Homo sapiens: one gene and its partner. The protein of the gene in region 2 interacts with the protein of the main gene of each other region in a pairwise test. Each region holds a gene or a part of one and is shown on either strand. Other genes may lie near its edges.

Evidence for each region. Proteins that work in one complex are often made in the same cells at the same time.
Region 1: the proteins of SH3BP5 (region 2) and SOS1 interact in a two-hybrid assay, tested with the Homo sapiens proteins (2 studies listed by BioGRID and IntAct).

The regions. Positions count from the first base shown.
Region 1 is NC_000002.12:39,114,453-39,118,102, reverse strand, and holds part of SOS1 (son of sevenless homolog 1), read left to right. Parts: intron 1-3,650.
Region 2 is NC_000003.12:15,263,017-15,266,666, forward strand, and holds part of SH3BP5 (SH3 domain-binding protein 5), read right to left. Parts: intron 1,483-3,650; exon of another isoform or gene 1,280-1,482; intron 1-1,279. UniProt on the Homo sapiens protein: Functions as a guanine nucleotide exchange factor (GEF) with specificity for RAB11A and RAB25. Inhibits the auto- and transphosphorylation activity of BTK. Plays a negative regulatory role in BTK-related cytoplasmic signaling in B-cells.

The DNA.
Region 1 (3,650 bases), on a different chromosome or scaffold from region 2:
GTGAATTTTAAGTTCCTATTTACTTGCCTATAACTAGATTGGATGCTCCTTGAGAACAGGGATGATATCTTACCCACATTTTATTCCCCATACTTATAGTGCTTGACATCTGGTAGGCACTCAATTTGAATAAATAGGTGAGGGGATATACAAACTAAAACTATCACTTCTCTCCTCCACCTGTCATTTCAGTTTTTCTTCTCGATTAATGGCTTTATTGTTACATTTGACTGGTTTAAAATGTTGGGGTCATCTCTGGCTTCTTTGTATTACTGTGCACACTCAGGTAGAGCCTGTATGTTCATTTCCCTTTGACATGTTCTTCTAGTCTATTCCTCCTCCGACTTCTCTAATTGAGTCTCCTTTGTCAGACTACTGTGATAACTTCTTAATGGGGTTCACTGGCCCCCACCTCACCTTCTGTTTTTCAAATCTCACCAGTTATAGGACACTTCTGAACATGTCACACTCAGAATTGTTGATGTCTTTTGAGTTCAACCTATGCTAAAGTGCACTTTTTAGCATAGAATTAACAGCAATTGATATTTGGCTTCATCCTGCTTTTCTGACTGGATTGTCTACCATAACCTTTTATCTCCTTTTTGCTTTAGCCAGTCCGGACTGCTACTTTTCCTGAATATGGCTGGAATGTCCCACTGTATCTGTTTCACCGCATCTATGAGTCTAAGTCCTATCTTATCTATTGCACAAATATATCATGCCTACTATAGACCAGGTATTGCCCTTGACACTCAGGCTAAAAAGGTAAATGACAGGGCCGGGCGCAGTGGCTCACGCCTGTAATCCAGCACTTTGGGAGAGCAAGGTGGGCGGATCACGAGGTCAGGAATTCAAGACCAGCCTGGCCAACGTGGTGAAACCCCATCTCTACTAAAAAATACAAAAATTAGCCTGGCGTGGTGGTGGGCACCTGTAATCCCAGCTACTCGGGAGGCTGAGGCAGGAGAATAGCTTGAAACCGGAAGACGGAGGTTGCAGTGGGGCGAGATTGCACCACTGCACTCCAACCTGGGCAACAAGAGCAAAACTCTGTCTCAAAAAAAAAAAAAAAAAGTAAATGACATAATCAGAAAAGACTAAATTAGAACATGATGGGAAGTGGCAGGGCATGTCTGGAGAGACAACTGGTTTATGAACAGTTTTTATATATGTTAAGCTAAGGAATTTAAATTTTTTCTTGGGTAATTAGAAGCCATTGATAAAGTTTCTTTTGTTTGTTTTTGTTTTGTTTGTTTGTTTTGAGACAGAGTCTTAACAGGCTGGAGTGCAGTGGTGCGATCTTGGCTCACTGCAGCCTCCACCTCCTGGGCTTAAGCTATCCTCCCACCTCAGCCTCCTGAGACTGTAGGCACACTGCCACATCCAGATAATTTTTGTATTTTTTGTAGAGATGGGGTTTCACCAGGCTGGTCTTGAACTCCTGGGCTCAAGCCATCTGCCTGCCTCAGCTTCCCAAAGTGCTAGGATTACAGGGTGAGCCACTGTGCCCAGCCAATAAGTTTTAAGTAGGGGAGTAACAGCACATTTTAATTTTAGAAAATTCACTTTGGCCATAGAATGGAAAATGGTTTGGAGAAGAATGAGACGTAAAGTGAGGAGAAAAGTTAGAAGCCTAGTTTAATAGTCCAGTCAAGAGATAATACACATTTGAACTAAGGGTGCATTTGAACAAGGATGGAAATATGGATGTGGATTTTATTTGAAAGAAGTTTACAAGGCAAAATTGACAGGATCTAGTAACTCACTGAGTGATTGGGGGAATGGTAATGGAACAGGAATAGTCTTGTTTCTGACTTGATTGTCTTTAGTCAGGATAGAGAATGTAGGAGAAGCTCTTAGGATGGAGAGAGGAGTGGCATAATAAGATGATTTTTGGAAATGTTGACTTAAAAGTTTGGGTTATTCAAGTGAACTTCTCCAACTGGCTATTGGTTGTTGGTATCTGATTAAGCAGATTTGGAACTTCTAGATGTGTAAGTAAAGCCATAAATATAGATGAAGCCTCTACAAAGACTTATACATGAATGTTCATGGCAGCTGTTTTCAGTCAAAAACTGGAAACAATCCAATGTTCGTCAGCAGGTGAATGAATAAGCAAATTGTGATACAAACAGTGGAATACTATTGGTTGTTGGTATCTGATGAAGCAGATTTGGAACTTCTAGATGTGTAAGTAAAGCCATAAATATAGATGAAGCTTATACAAAGACTTATACATGAATGTTCATGGCATCTCTTTTCAGTCAAAAACTGGAAAAAATCCAATGTTCGTCAACAGGTGAATGAATAAGCAAATTGTGATACAAACAGTGGAATACTACTCAGCAATAAAAAGGAACAAACTGGCTGGGTGTGGTGGCTCACACCTGTAATCCCAGCACTTTAGGAGGCCAAAGTGGGAGGATTACTTGAGCCCAAGAGTTCCAGGCCAGCCTAGGCAACATAATGAAACCCTGTCTCTACAAAAAACTTAAAAAATTAGCCAAAACATTTAAAAAAATTAGCCAGGTGTGGTGGCATGAGCCTGTAGTCCCAGCTGCTTGGGAGGCTGAGGTGGGAGCATTGCTTGAGTCTGAGAGGTCAAGGCTGCAGTGAGGTGTGATTGTGCTATTGCACTCCAGCCTGGGCAAAAAAATGAGACCCTGTCTCAAAAAAAAAAAAAAAAAAAAAAAAAAGAGAGAGAACAAATTTGATACAAATGACAACATGGCTGAATCTCAAAATAATTATACTCAATGAAAGAAGGGAAACCAAAAAAGAGTATATACTATATGAGTCTACTTATAGAACATTCTAGAAGGTGCAAACTAGTGCAGATCAGTGGTTGTTTAGGGAGAGGCTTTTTATGTTTACTTATCTTGATTGTGCTGATGGTTTCAGGGGTGTGTACATATCCTGAAATTTTTCAGATTGTATATTTTAAATATGTGCAGTTTATTGTATGTCAGTTGTACCTCAATGAAGGTATTTTAAAAAGTAGATGAGACCACACGCTGAAAATGATTTTAGTAAGACTGAAAAAGGGCTGGCATAAGAAGTGGGGGAAGGGAGTGGGAAATAGTGTATAGGGAGATAGCAGAGGAAAAGGAATGATGTAAGGAGACCGAGAAGCAAGGAGTCAGGCAGAAGGAATGAAACCCTAGTGTCTGAGAAGTTGAGAGAGGAATGCTTCAAGAAAAGAGTTGGCTGTGTGCGATGGCTCACACCTGTAATCCTAGCATGTTGGGAGGCCAAGGCAGGTGGATCACCTGTGGTCAGGAGTTTGAGACCAGCCTGGCCAACATAGTGAAACCCCTGTCTTTACTAAAAATACAAAAATTAGCCTGACGTGGTGGTGCACGCCTGTAATCCCAGCTACTCGGGAGGCTGAGACACAAGAATCCTGGGAGTTGGAGGCTTCAGTGAGCTGAGATCACACCACTGTACTCCAGCCTGGGTGACAGAGCTAGACTCTGTTTCAAAAAGAAACAAAAACAAATCAGCCGGGCCAGGTGGCTCACGCCTGTAATCCCAGCACTTTGAGAGGCTGAGGCGGGGGATCACCTGAGGTCAGGAGTTCGATACCAGCCTAACCAACATGGAGAAACCCCATCTCTACTAAAAATACAAAATTAGCTGGGCGTGGTGGC
Region 2 (3,650 bases):
TCAGACTAAGAATAAACCAACTTCCCAACAGTGGTTTTCTTTTCCTATTTATCTATTTTGAAAAAGCCTTGTGAGGAAAGATTAAATAGCTAAATTGGCTGTGGCAATGACTGAGAAAGAAAATGGAAAAACAAAAACCAGAAAATTTTGAACTATTTTCTGATTCAACAGCTGTCCACTTTCTTCTCAGGTTCCTCGATCTAAGTAGCCACCTAGACCTCCTCCCGTTCACACCTTGGGGCAGGGGCCTGATGGGCAGGCAAATGGCCAAATAGCAGCAGTGGGAACCTAAGAGATGGGGAACCTAATGGGGAGACCACCAAAACCAAGAACTAGGCATCGTGCCAGGCACGATGGCAGTCAAGCCAGCAAAGCAGCCATGACTTCCATTGTTTGGTCCTTTCCCAAATATTCTGAACTAGTTGGCTGTGCACAGAAGAACTCAGGATCCAGAAAGGGCAAACTTTACATTTAAGCAATTAAATTAAAACCCAGTCATTCACATCAGATTTTGAGGTACACAAACATTTGTGAGCAGAAGACAAGTCAAAGTTCTGGTGGGAAATTCTGGTGGGAACACTTTGTTAAGTCTGTTGAAAAAAATGAGTTACAAAACCAATACTCAAGGGCCCTCAATGGCCAAAAAACAAAAGCAGCTCACAGGCCCAGTCCCAGAGACATGGGCAATGTTAATTCTCTCCTTGCTTACCTACAGAAAAGCATCAGAACAAGGCCTGCCTTGAAGAAAGAGGAGGGAAACAAACCGCAGTTCAGGCCACATAAGCAGCTTGCGATTTCTTTCCCTGTCTTCTGCCTACCACTCAGTGTTATAAAATAAACCGGAGAGACAGTAGAGGTTAGGCTAAAGGGTTATTCTCTAATTCTGTATTCTCTGGGGAGCATCCGAGAGGAGCCCAGAGGGCTCATGGTCACTAGTCAGCTCTCTCAGACCCCGTAGAACAATTTTAGGGAGGTACCACCATGTCTTTAGTTCACAGTTAAAAAAGAAGGCCACAGAGGAAGGTTGCCAATGTTCTACCATCTCCTCCAGTCAACAGCCACAATCAGCCCTAGGATAGTTTACTTATTACTTACGATAAGGATTTTTAAAGGTACCATGAAAAATTATGAAAGACTTTTATATGGGCATTAAAAATTACAGGGTGTCCTGTCTAGGGCACCCTTCCAGGCTATCTCTGACTTTGTCTTGAAGCTGTTTTACAACCCTGTAAGTTGTAGAAAACTGACAGTAATACAAATGGTTTTTTTTTTTTTCCAGAGAAATGAAGATGAACTGTGTCACAGATGCAGTGGATTACTGACTGCCCTTGTAATAGTCCATTTTGCATCTGTTGGTAATTCATTGAGGCACTCTTGGTTTTCTATGAGTTTGTATTTTTTGAATTCAAGAATTGTAACATCACTGTTAGATCCCTCCTTATTTAATGAGAGAAATAAAATATTTGACACGAGAAAATTTTATATTTGTATCCCAATTATGCTTTTACCTTCTTAAAAATATCTTTTAACAAAGGCTTCAGTGCTTCAGATAATTTTTAAAAACAGAAAAACAACAAAATCAGAGAAGAAAAATAGGAGAGAACTGAGCTAAGCTGGCACGAGGAGACATGCTTGCTCACATGACTTCTCAACCAAGACCAAAGGGCTAAGAGAATCCTTTCCCTTTGCTTCCAAAACCAGATATTTCACAAGGAAACAAAATGCACTAAAAATATCTCATGCTTGATACTTGGGGAAACAGCAGTAAATCTTAAGCTTTAAGGATTTACTGGTATAACCTTTATGAAAACTCAAACCTTCAGGTTCATCAAAGACAACATGTTGGGGGTGATTGTTTTATTACAAAAAGATCCAATTAAAGGTTTACCTTTAAGGAGCTGTCAGAATGCATTTTCAACAGACTTGTAGAACCTGTAATTTGAGGGTCCTGTACAGAAAGAGTCCCCTGTAAGAAGCAGGATTCTCACCATCTGCACACAGGCCCTCATTCTATCTTGGCCTCTAGGCTGCAAGCAGAAGCACAGGCTTTCTACAATAAAACACTTGGAAAGCTCCGAGCCCATGGCAATACTGGCAGTGAAAACTGAAGAAGTGGCCAGCACATCACTGTCCCCTGCTTCGCCCCACCAGGCCACGTCTACCACATCCTGTCCCTATCTCCCCACTTCTCATATATATACAAAACCTCCAGGGCAGCCAGGTGCGATGGGGCTCATGCCTGTAATCCCAGCACTTTGGGAGGCCAAGGCGGGCAGATCACTTGAGGTCAGGAGTTCAAGACCAACCTGGCCAACATGGTGAAACCACGTCTCTACTAAAAATACAAAAATTAGCTGGGTGTGGTGGTTGGTGCCTGTAGTCCCAGCTCCTCAGGAGGCTGAGGCAGGAGAAAAGCTTGAACCTGGGAGGTGGAGGTTGCAATGAGCCAAGATCGCGCCGCTGCACTCCAGCCTGAGCTACAGGGCGAGACTCCGTCACACACACACACACACACACACACACACACACACACACACACACACAACCCTCCAGCTCCTGGAAGAGACCTCCACACAACTCAGCTTCCTGCCTTGAGGAAGAAGGTCACTAAGCATGTCGCCTTGGTTATGTCTCCTAGGTAATCAAGGAGCTCCTCTATCTACAGCCTAGCATCAGGCATGAGCTGTGTGCAGTGATGTGGGTCAGGTGTGGTGGGATAAGTAAGGAGGAGAGCGGCTCAGGGGTAGGTGTGGCAAACTGCACCCCATACTCCGGAGCAGCATACTCCGGAGATGCTGAAGATCCAGGGACCACAGAGATACTGCTCAGCCCCGGACCCTGCTCATATCAGCCCACAGAAAATAGCAAACACCCGGCACCTTCCCGCATGGGCACCACTGGGCACTGATTGGGTGTTTCAATCTGGCTTGGCCAGCCTCTTCGCGGGGTCCCACACCAGCAGAATGGCCCAACCGGCTTAGTAGACATCCACCAGGCACAGCTCCTCAGCCTCCTGTTACAGCTTTCTCGACTCTCCAATCTCCAGGGCCTTTGCACCCTCAGTTACACTCCCAACATCTCTTCCAACATCACAGAGGGGCGGTCAGGAGCCTCTTTGCCCAGGGAGGCAATCTCACTGTCTGCTGAGAACCTCCATTCTGACTGTTTCAGACTGTTTCCTGATTCTTACTGCGTCCTTGGGCAATGAGACCTAAGAAGGCGCTTCTTCCCACTGTGTGGAAGGGAGGCGGTTCACACCCACCAACGTCAGGGAGGCTGTCGTGAGCAGCTCCTCACCTGCCATCCCAGGCTCATATCCACTGTGAACCAGGAGAAGGGCTGGCCCTGCGTCGTGTCCTCTCCAGCAGCCACCTGGGGCTAGTTCAGAAACAGTTCGTGCCTCTCATTTCCAAGTCACATTTCCCTCTTCCTCTGTCTGAGCTCTTTCAGCAGACATCAGAAAAGCCAATTTCTCCCTCCCAGGATGCCAGCCCTCCTCTCTCAGAGGATGAAAAGCTATCACCTTCCCATAAAGGCTACTTCAGTGCCAAAACAGCTGAGGCTGAAGGGGTCCTATGCTGCCCAAGCTCCCCAGCTGGAGAGCAGCAGGGACCCCAGGCCCTGTGCCCCAAGGAAGGCTGCTCAACTAC